Homo sapiens: one gene and its partners. The gene in region 2 interacts genetically with the main gene of each other region. Each region holds a gene or a part of one and is shown on either strand. Other genes may lie near its edges.

Region 1 (4,018 bases), on a different chromosome or scaffold from region 2:
GATCCTCCCACTTTGGCCTTCCCAATTGCTAGGACTACAGGACTGAGACACTGCGTTAAGCCTGGGTAGGATTTTTCAAACTGTGTCATGACTCAATGAATTGTAAAAATCACTCAGTAGGAAATAATCAGAATTTTTTTTTAAAAAAAGAAACAATAGGCCGGGTGCGGTGGCTCACACCTGTAATTACGGCACTTTGGGAGGCAAGGCGGGTGGATCACCTCAGGTTAGGAGTTCAAGACCAGCCTGGCCAACATGGTGAAACCCCGTCTCTACAAAAATACAAAAATTAGCTGGGTATGATGGTGGGTGCCTGTAATCCCAGCTACTCAGGAGACTGAGGCGGGAGAATTGCTTGAACCTGGGAGGCGGAGGTTGCAGTGAGCAGAGATCGCGCCACTGCACTCCAGCCTGGGCGACAGAGTGAGACTCCATCTTGGGAAGGGAAAAAAAAAAGAAACAATATAAAATATCAGAGTCTATCACCTATATACATAAGTTCCATCTACTGTTTCATGGAACTTACGTATAAAGGTATAATTTACGAATATTTTGTTATATGTGTAGGTGTATACACAATTTATTTACTAGGTCATGATGTAAAATACATTTCTTACTATAGGTCAAATCAAAAAACTCAAAAGCCATAGTACTTGACGATATACTTAGTGCAAAGTTTTAAAAATACCTCAGTTTTCCAGGCATTACATCATATTGTTGTCTTAGTTCACTCCCTCTGAATCCCACTTAAGTTGCTTAGGTTACTTAAGTATCTTTCTTTTAATTTATGGCCCCTTTTTGTTTAGGGTTTGCATTACAACCCTTACACTATTAAAAAACTTTCATTTTTTAAATCTCTGCTTCCTATTTCTTATATAACCAATTTATTAATAAAATGCCATAGTAAGAAAAATTTGTGTCATCTGTTGCTCTGACTAGGTCACTGCCCTTCACTGGCTCCCTACTGCTTAATGCGTCTAATTCAAAAATTGCTTATTCCCTGTTTTGATGTCTATCCACAGTTCAATTCATCTAAAAATAATCATCTCATTTATTTCTCTCTGTTCTTTCTTGTTCGTTATACTCCTGATTTTAAAGGTCACCCACCTACGATCATCAGAAACATCTCGTTTACATACTATGCTTTGTTTATTTCTTCTCACATTTGAACTATCAGCTCCTAGTGGTCGGTGACCAAATTTAAGCCACCAGTAAGCTGTCACTCATCATGTTTCAGCCACAAGGAAAAAATTGGTAAAATAAAAGGATAAAAATTCTCTTTATTTTCCAAGTATTCTCCTCTTATTATTTCATACCTTGAATGACAGAATAACTATTTCCATCATAGAAAGACTAAAACTTCCCTCCAATAGCTTTATAACCTTAAAAAGGTTTAGTGAGATGATTTAAATGTGGAAAAGAATACCCAAGAAAGGCCTTCAGAGAATATGATAATAGTTTCTTCTCTACACAAAGAAGTAAACAATGTTTAGCTTTTTATAATGTAAATATCACTTAGGTAATATTTTCTCTTAATAGCAAATCTCAATTTCTATTAAAACAACACTCTAAAATCTATACAGTATAACGATGTTTTACATTATAGCTTTTTTGAGGTGTAACAGACATAAAAGAAGTTGTACTTAAATGCAAAATTTGTTGAGTTTTAAGATATGTAAGCCCGTGAAGCCATCAGTCTCCCAAAAGTTTCCTCATACTCCATTGTAATCCATCCCTTCTTGCCCCTGCACCCTAGGCAGCTGATGATCTGCTTTCTGCCACTACAGATTAGTACACATTTACTAGGATTTTTATATAAATGTAATCACATGGTATTTTTGGTCTGAGTTTTTTCACTCTGTAATTATTTTGAGAATCATCCATTTTGCTGCATGTATCAATAGTTCATTCCTCTTTATAGCTGAGTTGTAGTCTGTTGTAATGCTGTATCACTATTTTTCGATTCATCTGTTAATTGATATTTGGGTTGTTTCCAGTTTGGGGCTATTAGAAATAAAGCTGGTATGAATATTTGTACATAATTCTGTGGACACATGAAGACATATTTATGTTGGGTAAACATCTGGGAGTAAAGTGGCTAGGAAATATAGATGTGTGCTTTATTTCTTTTTTTTGAGACAGGGTCTTGCTCTGTGGCCTAGGCTGGAATACAGTGGCATGATCATGGCTCACTGCAGCCTTGACCTCTCAGGCTTAAGTGATCCTACCACCTCAGCCTCTGGAGTAGCTGGGACTACAAGTATGTACCACCATGTTCAGCTACTTTTTTAAAAAATTTCTTATTTTTGTATAGAAGAAGTCTCCCTACATTGCCCAGGCTGGTCTCAAACTCCTAGGCTGAAGCAATCCTCCCGCCTCGGCCTTTTAATTTCTAAAGAAACTACCAAATTGTTTTCCAAAGTGATTGTATCATTTTACGTTCCCATCAGTAGTATATCTTCTGTAGTAATTGCTGGTTCAAATCTTTAGATCATTTTTAAAAAGTGGATGTCTTCTTATTAATGAATTATAAGCATTCTTCATATATTCTAGATATAAATCCTTTGTCAGATACATTTTTCACAAATATTTTCTGCTAGTCTGTAGCTTGTCTTTTCATTTTTGTAACCGTTTTTCTTCAAATTTATTTATTTAAATTGATAGGTAAAATTGCATATATTTATCATGTACAACATATTGTTTTAAAGTATATATACACTGTGGAATGGTTAATCTAGCTAATTTGCATTATCTCACAGTTATCGTTTTTTGTGGTGAGAACACTTAACATCCACTCTTTCAGCATTTTTCCAGAATGCACTATATCATCATTAACCATGTCACGATGTTGTATAATAGTGTAACCGTCTTTTGAAGAACAAAAGTTTTAAATTCAGTTAAAGAACAATTTATTGATTTTTTTTCTGAACTATAAGTTCATGCTTTTCTCTGTCCCATTTAAGAAATGTTTGCCAAAACAGGGTCACTACAATTTGTTTTCTTTTAGAAATTTTAAGTAGTTTTAGCTCTCACACTTAGGTCTATGATCCACTTCCAGTTAATTTTTGTAAATGGTATAATGTAACAGTTGAGGTTCATATTTTTACATATGACTATTAACTGTTTCAGCACCATTTGATGAAAAAGATTACCCCTTCTTCAACTAAATTAGCATCTCTGTCAAAAAATTAATATATCATATATATATGAATCTACTTCTGGAACTTCTTATTCGGCTCTACTGATCTATGTCTGCTTATGCCAAACAATAGTAAATTGACTATAGTATAATAAATCTTAAAATTTGTAGAATAGTAAATTCTCTCCAATATTGTGCCTCTTTGTCAAAGTTGATTTGGCTATTCCGTGGCCTTTGCACATAAACTTTAAAGTCAGCTTGTCAATATCTACCCTCCCAAAAAAGTCTGCCAATGTTTGATAGTTTGATTAGGGTTACAATAAATCTTTTTTTTTTTTTTTTTTTCTTGGAGACAGAGTCTTGCTCTTTTGCCCAGGCTGGAGTGCAGGTGGCACAATCATAGCTCACTGCAACCTTGAGCTCCTGGATTCAAGTGATCCTCTCACCTCTGCTTCCTGAGTAAGTAGAGCTAAAGGCGTGTGCCAGCATGCCTAGCTAGTTTTTTTTAATTATTATTTTATTTTTTGTAGAGATAGGGTCTTGCTACATTCTCAGGCTGGTCTTGAACTCCTTGCCTCATGTGATGCTCCTGCCTTGGCCTCCCAAAGTGCTGGGATTACAGATGTGAGCCATTGTACCTGGCCTTCAATGAATTTTTAGATAAATTTGAGAAGACATCTTATATTTAGTTTTACAATCCATGAACATGGTTATATCTCTTCATTTATTTAGTCTGTTTACAATATTCTCTCTCTTTTTTTTATCTATAGTGATGTCAACCTTTCTTTCCTGATATTGCTAATGTTTGTCTTTTTCCTGATCAGTATCTATTTTATTTTATCTTCTGAAGAATTAGCTTTTGGTTTCATTGGTTTTCTC
Region 2 (4,018 bases):
GTCTCGAACTCCTGACCTCAGGTGATCCACCCACCTCAGCCTCCCAAAGTGCTGGGATTACAGGCATGAGCCACCACACCGGGCCCAAACCATTCTTTCATTACTCTCTCTCCCTTGTACCCCTGCACTGCTCAGAGTACGTTTTTTAAATTCCTTACCTTTGATTCATGCATTTTTACCTGACAATTCAAAATGTGTCCATCATTTTAGATATAGCTGAAGTTCTAACTTCCTCCCTTAAGATTCCCTATTACTTTAACCAAAAAGAATTGTTTCCTCTTCAAAACTCTGGGCACCCTTCTCACAGGCCTTATGAAGGAAACACATGTTCAGTGCTGACAGTCCTCTCCTCTTTTACTGAGGGGTACAGAACTCCTGGAGTGCAGAGAACATTCACATTTGTATGCCCAGAGTATCTAGCACAAAATGTTATGTAAAGAGGAGCTACATAAATATTTGCTAGGAATTGTAAATTAAATTTATAGGCCAGGCATGGTGGTTCATGCCTGTAATCCCAGCACTCTGGGAGGCAGAGGTTGGAGGGTCACTTGAGCCTAGGAGTTTGAGACCATCCCAGGCAACACAGTGAGATCTCGTCTCTAAAATAAAAGTTATATATAACTGTTAGGATTACATATGCATTGCATAAAATAAGGTTCAGGTGTTTAAGATCAAAATTGATGGTAAATGAGATAATCGGAGGGACAAAGTTCTTAAAAGAGAGGGAACAGAATTCTGTACCCAAATAATCTGAATTTGTCTCAGATAACACAAGAATAATATGCAGGAAGACTGACAGATTTGGTGGCAGAAGATTAATACTTTATCTTCAGATTGTCAGATTGCTTTCAATTTCTTAGTAAAATAAGTAAGGTCACCATTGGAAAGGGAGGCAGAGAGACAGGATACTGAGAATTTGAGGGAAAAGGGGAGCATGTGACACTGGGAATGGAGCAGGGAAATACCACAGGACTAACTGGTACTGAGAGCTCACTTAAGAGATATTACCATAAATATAAAGTTGGAGAAACTTCAAGGAAAATAAAGCATCAACATTGGATTATTCTAATATTACAATACAGCCATTTTATAGGGAAAAAAACATTTGACATAAAAAGGTTACCAAACCTAGTAAAAATGTGCAAAATTGATAAATGAGTAATATAAACATACAGGAAAACACAAAAATAAAGCAAGTTACCTGAATAAGATTGTAACAGTCATGATTTCCACCATACTACAATTATTGTTTAAAAAGAAAAAAATGAAGAGAGAAAACAAAAACCACATCTCTAATTTGACTACTCCTGAGATTTCCATAATAGCATGATCATTCCCCCTCCCTGAGACACATTTTAATATTAAAAATAGTTGTTTCATTAATATTTTCCTGAATTGAATTCCAACTTTTTTTTTCAGTCAGATCAAAGTCAGATTTCAGTTTCCATTATCTGAACACAAACATCAAGGTCAGCAAAGTACAAGTTCCTTTATCCTACTAAGATAAATTCATACTAACTTTGAGGTAGAATCAGATCGAAGAATGTAATCACTGAATTCATTCATCACTCAATTACAAAGAAATAGGCCAATATTCAGTCAGTATGCACCCAGGTATTCATTTTAACAATTATCTTTGTTAAAATGTTAAAATAGCTCTGAATCAGTTGGTAATGAGTCATAGCCATGGTCCTATTCCCCTGCTTTACCCCACCATGCTAGCCCAAACCTTCTCATAATCCGCAGCTGAAGGAGTAATGCCTGGCACAGCTGAAAGCTTATAGGATCCTGCTCTGGTATGAAGGATGGTATCCATTTAGTGGTCAGTATACACAGTACTGATTACTGAATATTTTAATATACTCTCCCTGCCAATAAGGTATCACTAACAATGCCAAAATACAGATTTTTAATGGGCATAAAAAATGTGCATGCTTGCACACCCACACACCCCTAAGGCAATAGGCAATTACAAACCTTGGTGATTTCAAAAATGAGGAGTCTCAGATTACATCTGGATATCCTAGGTTATCATAATGCAAGGATAACAGTTATAGAGCTTCTTCCCAAGCTCTGAGAGAAATGTTTTCTTGTATTCTTTCTCTCCTACATTCCATAAACTGCAAATATACCTGAGGATGAAGGTAACTGTTCCAGTCACCGCTGGCGGACAGAGCCTACAGACACAGGCTATGTAAACAACTGGATTAAATCTCACTGCATTAAGTATAGATTATTCCTGCTACAACATCAATTATCCTTCTTGGATACCACGACAATGAGTGCTATGAGTGAGGGGCCAAAAGACAACCAAGGCCACACATGGTGGCTCACGCTGTAATCCCAGCACTCTGGGAGGCCAAGGTAGGAGAATCACTTGAGCCTGGGCAACATGGTGAAACCCCATCTCTACAAAAAATACAAAAATTAGCTGGGCATAGTGGCATGCCCCTGTAGTCCTAGCTACTCAGGAGGCTGAAGTGGGAGAATCACCTTAACCCGGGGAGGTCAAGACTGCAGTGAGCTGTGATCATATCACTGCACTCCAGCCTGGGTGACAAAGTGAGGCCCTGTCTCAAAATACAGAAAGAAAAGAAAATCAATATTGGTTCAGAATCTACTACATGCCAGATACCTTGCTTTTCTACATATAATCTGATATGCTTCTCAAACAATTCTGTGAAGTATCACTATCATCTTTTATATACAAATAAACAGGGCCATGAAAGCCCACTAATTCATACGAATTCAAATCGTTGGTAAGGAGCAAAGAAGCCAGGCATTGCTGGTTCCAAAGCCAGGCTTATACCTCATTTCACAATATCCATTAATCAGAAATCCTAAGGAAAACAAGTTAAGACTTGGCCACTGGCTAGGCAAGACATGATTTTACCACTCCCTCTCGCTACTTCATCCTGCTTTTCCTCAGTTCCTGTTACAAATGACTTCTGGCACACAATTTTAGAAAACTTAAAACCCATTAAACTTACCTTTCCATAAGCAAACTAGCTAAAATAGATGGCCTATTACCAGAAACCTTCCAAGAATGCATTTGCGGACATAAGGGATGGAGGACTGGAAAGCAGAAGAAAATAAAGAGAAGACTAAAATAGTGATTGAGCCTTAAATACAAAAAAGGGGAGAGGGAGCTGGCACACAGACTCCTGTCAGTGGCCAGTCTTCAAAAGCAATAACGAATAGGAAACCAAGTTCACTTAACTGAGTGCCTATTACAAGCTGCTACTACTGGGCATATGATGAAGAAAACTCATATGGTTTCTGCCACCTGAAGAATTTATAAAACGGTGTTCTGAAGAAAATGGAAGGGAGGGACTCTAATTGCTAAGCTCCTTCTAGGGCTAAGTACTTTAAAAATAGTACCTTATTAAATGTAGTTCTATAAACAACTCTGTAAGAAAGGTATTATTATACTCTGAAGCATGTTAAGTAAGTTTCTCCACAAAAATTTGGGCTATATCAAAGCCTACAACCTTTTCACTAGTCCACTCCTTCTGGACAATTCTGAGTATGCTCAGCCTATTGAAAATAGTAGCTTCTCCAGGGCTGAATATATATAACATGATCTTTTCTAACAATGCTGACAATGAAGATGCCTCATTTCTAGGAAAGAAAATTATTCTAATACCTTTAGCATAAAATACTTCAGGAATTACAGATGAATTGGAAAGATAAAGTAACATGAAATACTAGTGGTGGCAATGAATATGGTTTACAAAATTAATTACTGCTACAATCCCAGAAACTTGGGGGGAGAGGAAGGGAGTGAAAAGACACTGCAAACAACTAAAGCAATATATATAGCAATAAAAAATAAAAATTAAACCCAGATATAAGACCCTTGTTTACATATGGAGTGAATACTTTAAGATCTTTTTTTTTTTTTTGCGACGAAGTCTCGCTCTTGTCCCCCAGGCTGGAGTGCAATGGCACAATCTTGGCTCACCACGACCTCCACCTCCCAGGTTCAAGTGATTCTCCTGCCTCAGCCTCCCGAGTA
Region 3 (4,018 bases), on a different chromosome or scaffold from region 2:
GGGGGACTTCAGCGTTGCAGCAAGGTTGCCTGTGGAGTGCAAAGCCACAGTGGTAGGAGGGGAAGCCAGAGCCGTGGGAGGGGCTAGCTATGGACTGCATGCCTCTCCCTACGACTGAATTGAGCATCCTGTGAAAGGTTTGCAGTGGGGGAGGGACACAGACTGATTTGTGCTTTGGGAAGGACACTCTGGCTGTGTGTGTATAGAAGCAATGAAGGGGAAGGGGGTGCAGGGTGAGGAGTCAGAGACTAGGCGGAGGCTGCTGAGGTGACTGCTGTTGGGATGGGAAGAGCAGCTCAGATGCCTTTCTTTTCTTTTCTTTTTTTTTTGGGAGTCTCACCCTGTCCCCCAGGCTGGAGTGCAGTGGCATGATCTCGGCTCACTGCAACCTCCGCCTCCCGGGTTCAAGTGATTCTCCTGCCTCAGCCTCCTGAGTAGCTGGGACTACAGGCGCGTGCCACCACGCCCGGCTAATTTTTTGTATTTTTAGTAGAGATGGGGTTTCACCGTGTTAGCCAGGATGGTCTCGATCTCCTGACCTTGTGATCCGCCCGCCTCGGTCTCCCAAAGTGCTGGGATTACAGGCGTGAGCCACTGCACCCTGCTAGATGCTGTATTTTCTTATGGGGAGGGTCTGTTAGCAGGGGCCATCCTGACACTGCCTTGTGGCCAGGAAGGAGACAAACGAAGGCTGGCGTTTCTTTTTCTTTCTGCGTCTGCCTTACGTTGTGATCTTTGTTTAAAACTTATTCAGAATGGAAATGCTAAATTCCAGAGTAACAAAGAGTTTGTTGAACTCGTTAGAGTTACACATGATAGGATTTAACATTGTATTGAGATGTGTCAATAACATTCATTTACTTAGAAACGTCACATCTTCTGGATTTCCAGAGGAGTTTTATTCTTGATAAGTTTGCTTTCTTGATGAGGGAAAGTTTAATCCAGCTGCAGTTTTTCTTTAAAAAAAAAATCATCTATCTTAAGAAATATAACATTTAAAGGTTAGATGTATTTAAAAATGATAAAAGGAATACTTTGGTACAGTTTCTTTGGTTTCTGAGTTGATTAGGGACTCAGAAGCCTTTGCATTATTTAGTGGTATATCCTTGCCAATATTTAAAGAGCTGTTAGTGAGCACCCCAGGCCCTGCTCTCTGGAAGCTTTCCTAAAGCTTGCCCTGAAATAGCGAGGATGAACGTCTTGTTTGCTAAAGCCAAATGGTTGGCTAATAAGACTCAGCATAGCTGTCTTTATAAAATAATAAGAGGTTTGATGTTAAGAAGTGGAAGATAATTGATTTTTTTAAAAAGCTGAAACATAAACTTCCTTATGCTAATGTTACAACTGGAAAATCTAAAAAGAAAAATCCAACTGTAACATTGCCTACGTGAAAGACATGGTAGAAGTCCTTACGTACCGATCACCTTTAAACAAATTGCTTGGCAGTACATTTTTGAAATTAAGACCACTCCAGCTCACATAACTGGCAATGATTATTGCTGACTTAAAATTATAGAGCCTACAGTTGCCTTCTTAGCATTTTTAGTAGTGAGAGAATTGAATAGTGCTTAGTCAGAGTGCTTTCTGGGTGGGAGTTGTATAGTAATAAAGATACATTTTCATGTATTTTCTAGACATTACAAGAAGCGGTGCCAAGGCCGCATGCGGAAGCACGTGGGGGACCTGTGCCTGCAGGCAGGGATGCTGCAGGACTCCCTGGTGCATTACCACATGTCGGTGGAGCTGCTGCGTTCTGTGAATGACTTTCTGTGGCTTGGAGGTAAGATGAGCTGATGAAGATGATCTGATATGTAATTGTTTCAACTGTTAATTAAAATGAGAGGCTGGGTGCGGTGGCTCACGCCTGTAATCCCAGCACTTTGGGAGGCTACGGCAGGCCAAATATGAGGTCAAGAGATTGAGACCATCCTGGCCAACATGGTGAAACCACGTCTCTACTAAAAATACAAAAATTAGCTGGGCGTGGTGGCACGCGCCTATAGTCCCAGCTACTCGGGAGGCGGAGGCAGCAGAATTTCTTGAACCAGGAGGCAGAAGTTGCAGTGAGCAGAGGTTGCACAACTGCACTCCAGCCTGGCAACAGAGCGAGACTCCATCTCAAAAAAAAATAAAATAAAATAAAAAAAGAAATGAGAGGAAACGGCAGAAGAAATTCCCCAAAAAGAAGGGATGAGGGAGGAAAAGCAGCCAGCCTGTGCTGGTTGCCACGAGCAGTGGCCTGGGATGCTTCCCTGCTGTATCTGCTGCCCTCCTCCCACCCTGCCATGCGTCCTCTGAAGGAGGCCCTGCCCACACTTTCCCTTTTCCTCTGTTCTTAGTATACCTTGCCCTCTGCTTTGGATGCCGTTCCCCATGATCTTCACCTCTTAGACTCCTCCCTCAAAACCTCCTCCATGTGTCACATGATGAATGGATAAACGAAATGTGGTATGGGCATACAGCGGAATATTATTCAGCCATGAAAAGGAGTGAAATTGTGATACCACTGCAGCACGGATGAACCTTGACAACTTTGTGCTAAGTGAGAGAAGGCAGGCATGAAAAAGGCCGCAGATTGTATGATTCTATATATATGAAGTGGCTAGAATAGGCAAATCTATAGAAGCAGAAAGTAGACAACTGGTTCTAGGGGCTGGGAGGAGGGGGAATGGGAAGTGACAGTTAACGGGCATAAGGTTTCTTTCTGGGGTGATGAAAATGTTCCAGAGTCAGTTAGTGGTGATGGTTGCACAGTTGTGAATATACTAAAAACTGCTGACTTGCACACTTTAAGTGGGTGAATTATATGGTATGTGAACTCTATGTCAATCTTAAAAATTAAAAGAAAGGGAAGAAGAAATCCTACTTCAAAGCACAGCCATCTCTGATCCCCCGCAGCAGTCGGCAGAGCGGGTGCCCTGCCTGAGATGTTGCTGACACTTCGTGGTGGAATCGGATGTCTGTGTGTGGTCTTCCCTTTGGGGACTGCGCCTCCTGGAGGTGGTCCTGGGAGGATGGACTGGCTGAGTCCATTGTGTGGGTAAGGACTAAAACAGGGTTCTTTCGTTGAGGTTGACAGTTTAGCAAGGACACCTGTCAGCCACTTATGATAATACAAGTCGGAATGAAGTAATGAGGTGAGTTCTGTAACAGAAGTTTAACGAGGTGCCGTAGAACATATTAAATATAACAAATTCTTTCGTTCTTGGGGACGGAGTCTCGCTCTGTTGCCCAGGCTGGAGTGCAGTGGCATGATCTTGGCTCACTGCAATCTCCGCCTCCTGGGTTCAAGCGATTCTCCTGCCTCAGCCTTCCGAGTAGCTGGGACTTACAGGCATGCACTACCACACCCGGCTAAATTTTCTATTTTTAGTAGAGACGGGGTTTTGCGATGTTGGCCGAGCTGCTCTTGAACTCGACCTCAGCTGATATGCCTGCCTTGGCCTCCCAGAGTGCTGGGATTACAGGCATAAGCCACTGTGCCCAGCCAAATATAAGAAATACTTCAAACGGCCAGGCATGGTGGCTCATGCCTGTAATCCCAACACTTCTACAAAAAATAAAAAATAAAAAAATCTTACTTCACCTCACTTCTACAAAACAAAATTAAAAAACATTAACTGGGTGGAGACCAGCCTGAGCAACATAGGGAGACCTCACTTCTACCAAAATAAAATAAAATAAAATAAAATAAAAAGACATTAGCTGGGCTTGGTGGTCTGTGCCTGTAGTCCCAGCTACTTGTGAGGGTGAGGCAGGAGGATCGCTTGGGCTCAGGAGGTCAAGGCTGCAGTGAGCCACGATCGCACCACTGCACTCCATCCTGAGCAAGAGTGAGACTTTGTCTCTTAAGAAAAAACCAAAATAAAACTTAAAATGGACTTAAATTTAGTTTTTTAAAGAGGCTAGGGAAATAGAAGTGGGGAAAGAAAGGGAGTAAGAATTAGGGATGGAAAAGAAAAGAGAATCAGATAAAGGATTATGCAGGCTGAGAAAGACATAGTTTTACTTGGTTTTC
Region 4 (4,018 bases), on a different chromosome or scaffold from region 2:
CTGGGCCCTTCTCTCTCTGACCGAACTGTAAGTACCTTGGTTTTGTCTAGAAAATACACAAGGCTGCAGAAGTGACCAGTTAAGTATTTATTAAATATTCATCAACGAAAGGACTTGCCAAGACTGATGCCATAGATCATGAGAAACAGTAAACGATTGTGGAATATTTTATTCGTATAGAGATACCAAGGAACGTTGGCAGGAACATCACAACTCAAATAGTCTCAAATACAAAGCAGCAGCAGATGTGGTCACGGCTCTACCAACAGTCAGCTTGGGCGCGTTAAAGACTCCACAGACTAACGTCATGATGCTCCCGAGAAACCCACCCACATGGATCTTTTGTTGTCCCCCTTTCTTTGAGACAGGGTCTCGCTCTGTCGCCCAGGCTATAGTATAGTGGCACCATCTTGGCTCACTACAGCCCAGTTCTCCTGGGCTCAAGCGATCCTCCTACCTCAGCCTCCTGGGTAGCTGGGACTACAGGTGCCCGCCACCACACCTGGCTAATTTTTTGTAGAGACAGGGTTTCGCCATGTTGCCCAGGCTGGTCTCAAACTCCTGACCTCAAGTGATCTGCCTGCCCCGGCCTCCCAGGGCAGGCAGAAGTTCCTAGAAGTTTCAGGGTCAGGTTGATGTGGTTATTGACTGCTGGGGTGTATTCACTTACAAGCATCTGGGGCCCAGCGTGGTGGCTCACGCCTGTAATCCCAGCACTTTGGGGATTACAGTATGGGGTTTCTTTTTAGGGTGATAAATATGTTTTAAAATTGACTGTGGTGGCCAGGCATGGTGGCTCACATCTGTAATTCCAGCACTTTGGGAGACCGAGGTGTGTAGATTCCTTGAGCTCAGGAGTTAAAGACCAGCCTGGGCAATATGGCAAAACCATCTCTACTAAAAATACAAAAATTAGCCAGGCATGGTGGTATGCTCCTGTAGTCCAAGCTACACAGGAGGTGGAGGTGGGAGGAGCAATTGAGCCCAAAAAGCAGAGGTTGCAGTGGGCTACAATCATGCCACTGCACTCCAACCTGGGAGACAGAGAAGAAAAAAAATAGCTGGGTGTGGTGGCCCACACCTGTGGTCCCTGCCACTCAGGAAGCCAAAGTAAGAGGATCTCTTGACTCCAGAAGGTTGAGGCTACAGTGAGCTGGGATCGTGCCACTGCACTCCAGCCCAGGCAAGAGAGCAAGATAGTCAAAAAAAAAAAAAAAAAAAAGAAAAAAAAAAAGAACAATAATATTGACTGTGGTAATGGTTGCACATATTCCTGAAACAGACTAAAAGCCATTGAATTATAAACTTCAAATGAGTGAATTACATGGTTTGTGAATATCACAATAATGCTGTTACATTTTAAAAAAAAAAAAAAGCACCATCTTAAAAAATGAAGAAAAAGACTGGGTGCGGTGGCTCACATCTGTAATCCCAGCCCTTTGGGAGGCTGAGGTGGGTGGATCACCTGAGGTCAGGAGTCTGAGACCAGCCTGGCCAACAGAGCAAAACACTGTCTCTACTAAAAATACAAAAAATTAGCAGGGCATGGTGGCGGGCGCACGTAACCCCAGCTACTTGGGAGGCTGAGGCAGGAGAATTGCTTGAACCCGGGAGACGGAGGTTGTGGTGAGCTGAGATGGCACCATTGCACTACAGCCTGGACAACAGAGCGAGACTCTGTCTCAAAAAAAAAAAAGAAGAAGAAGAAAAAGAGATGGGAAGAACTTTTTTTACATTAAAAGAGAACTGAGATCTAACAACCACATGTAATATGTGATATCCTGTTGGACTCCATTAAAAATGATTTATAAAATACTTTAAGACAATTAGGGAAATATGAATATGGCCTACTTAGCAGATGATATTAGAACCTTATTAATTCTTTGGGTGTGGTTAAGAGACTGTCCTTATTTTTAGAAGATCTAATGTGGTCTAGAGTTTGACTTAAAGCAAAAATAAAAAAAAAAGTCAGGTGAAAGACATAGATACATGTCAGCTACACAGCAAAATGTTAGCAACTGTTTACTGTAAGTGGTTGGTATATCTTGTATTCTTTTTTACTTCTGTAATATTTGAAAATATTCCTAGTCAAGTTGTAAGAACTGGTCTTACCTGGGCTGTCTGACGGCTGGCTGGCAAAGTCAAGTATCTCCTGGCAGAAGTGCTTGCGCTCCTCTTCAGTGAGGTGGTGGTCACTGGCTAAGAGGCTGCTGGTCTGCAGGTAGCTGGAGCGGAGAGGTAAGGAGCGTGGAGAGGCTCATACTTAGGAGTGCGGGGGGAAGTGGATGCAAAGTCTCCTACGGCCTTCACAGAGGCTTCAAAAGCCAAAGGGCTTTTTTTTTTTAAGTTACTAGGGCTCAAAATTAGATTATAAAAAATCGACTAGACATTTCATTCATTTTCTATACAATACATATGTATAAGTTAGGACTTTTCTCTCCTTAATAATAGGTGTGAATGAAACATTGATTGTGGGCAATGTTGCCGTATAAACAGAAAATAATTTTCCTGCTTCATGAAAACATTAAAGGATACTTTTCAATTTGTCCAAGGTGCTTTTGACATTCGGCCAGCTGCTTCCTTGTGTGTGTGATGGGGAGTGCCCAGCCCTCAGCCAGGTAGTTTTTCAGTGCTCCTTGAAGATAGATTTCTGCCTTTTGTGGAGCCTTTTTCCTCCTTGCAAAGTCAACAAACAGTAGCTTTCATTACAGCTAGGGATAATCAACACACTGAAACCCCATCTCTCCCGCTTTGGCCTCCATCCTCCAGACCCCATGCCAGGACAGACTCAACATCTCTAGATAGCCCTTTTCCACCCACCCCACTCCGTGAGAAAGAGTACCTACTCAGGACGACATAATTAGACTCCCAGGCAAAGATCTGAGAAATGAGCGTGTGGTGATAAGAGCACAACACATCGTTGGTCTGGCTTTATACACATGTCGAGGAACTTTCATAGCTGAATCTCAGGATAAGAAAGTGAGCCTATCATTCATGATCTCAAGCTGACAGGCAAGAGGGCCAAGGCTAAGAGAAGGTGAAGGAAGGGCTTGTCCACAAGTACACTGCTAGTCAGCAATGAAGCCAGGAAGTCCAAGTATGGGTCTACACTACCTACTAAAGGCACAGAAACACAGAAGCAGTCTACAGGGCGCAAGCGGAAGGGAGCACAGAGCCACTTGGAAACTCAGGCAAAGAGCACTCCACAGGATCCAGCTTCCAGAGAACGCCGGAGAATTAAAATAGCCACACTTGGCCCCCAAAGCAAAGTTTAAAGCACAACTGTTTTTTTTAAAGATGGGGTCTTGCTCTGTCACTCAGGCTGGAATACAGTGGTGTGATCATAGCTCACTGCAGTCTCAAACTCCTCAGCTCAAGTGATCCTCCCGCCTCAGCCTCCTCCACTGTAGCTGGGACTACTGGTGTGTGCGGCCTTGCCTGCCTTTAAAATGCAAATTAATAAGGGCTTGTCAAAGCCTCAGGAGCAACAAGGATCCCCTCCCCTTTCCCGAGAAGCCTCTCTGCTTCCTTAAGGAGCACCTTCCTCTTCAGATACACAGCATGGAAGTTCAAGAGAGCTACATTCTAGCTGTGACTCTGCTGTTAACCAGTGGGTAATCGGCAAAGCTGCTCCAACCACATCCGGAAAACCAGAAAGTTCACTTAGCTGATCTAAGAATCCCTTTCCAGCCAATTCACATCAGTTCAAATCAATTCTCATTTCTTGCTTCACCTAATGAAATCACTTGAGTACAGATTTCAAGATCTCATTTCAATCACTTTTTTTTTTTTTTTTTTTAGAAAATGAAAACAAGCATCTTTTTCCTTATAGCTTGTATCTCCTTTGAGTACTCTGAAATGGTAACCACATGACCCACTGGGGTTTCTTCTCTTTGATAGTCTGATTTTATGAAACACACCAGAAATACGCTAAATTTTGAGTTTTTCTGGAATCAAACTTCAAAGCTGGAGCTGGAATGGAAACCCTGCAGTCTTTGTACACACCTTCTTCCAGTCA

Evidence for each region. Genes that interact genetically often act in the same process or in processes that back each other up.
Region 1: changes in SEC24B (region 2) and RAB2A together harm fitness more than expected from each alone (negative genetic interaction), as found in Homo sapiens cells (one large-scale study listed by BioGRID).
Region 3: changes in SEC24B (region 2) and TRAPPC9 together harm fitness less than expected from each alone (positive genetic interaction), as found in Homo sapiens cells (one large-scale study listed by BioGRID).
Region 4: changes in SEC24B (region 2) and TRAPPC10 together harm fitness less than expected from each alone (positive genetic interaction), as found in Homo sapiens cells (one large-scale study listed by BioGRID).

Annotation. Positions count from the first base shown.
Region 1 is NC_000008.11:60,586,400-60,590,417, reverse strand, and holds part of RAB2A (ras-related protein Rab-2A), read right to left. Parts: intron 1-4,018.
Region 2 is NC_000004.12:109,440,008-109,444,025, reverse strand, and holds part of SEC24B (protein transport protein Sec24B), read right to left. Parts: intron 1-4,018. UniProt on the Homo sapiens protein: Component of the coat protein complex II (COPII) which promotes the formation of transport vesicles from the endoplasmic reticulum (ER).
Region 3 is NC_000008.11:140,436,814-140,440,831, reverse strand, and holds part of TRAPPC9 (trafficking protein particle complex subunit 9), read left to right. Parts: intron 1-1,634; coding exon 1,635-1,780; intron 1,781-4,018. UniProt on the Homo sapiens protein: Functions as an activator of NF-kappa-B through increased phosphorylation of the IKK complex. May function in neuronal cells differentiation. May play a role in vesicular transport from endoplasmic reticulum to Golgi.
Region 4 is NC_000021.9:44,078,222-44,082,239, reverse strand, and holds part of TRAPPC10 (trafficking protein particle complex subunit 10), read right to left. Parts: intron 2,677-4,018; coding exon 2,536-2,676; intron 2,226-2,535; coding exon 2,113-2,225; intron 1-2,112. UniProt on the Homo sapiens protein: Specific subunit of the TRAPP (transport protein particle) II complex, a highly conserved vesicle tethering complex that functions in late Golgi trafficking as a membrane tether.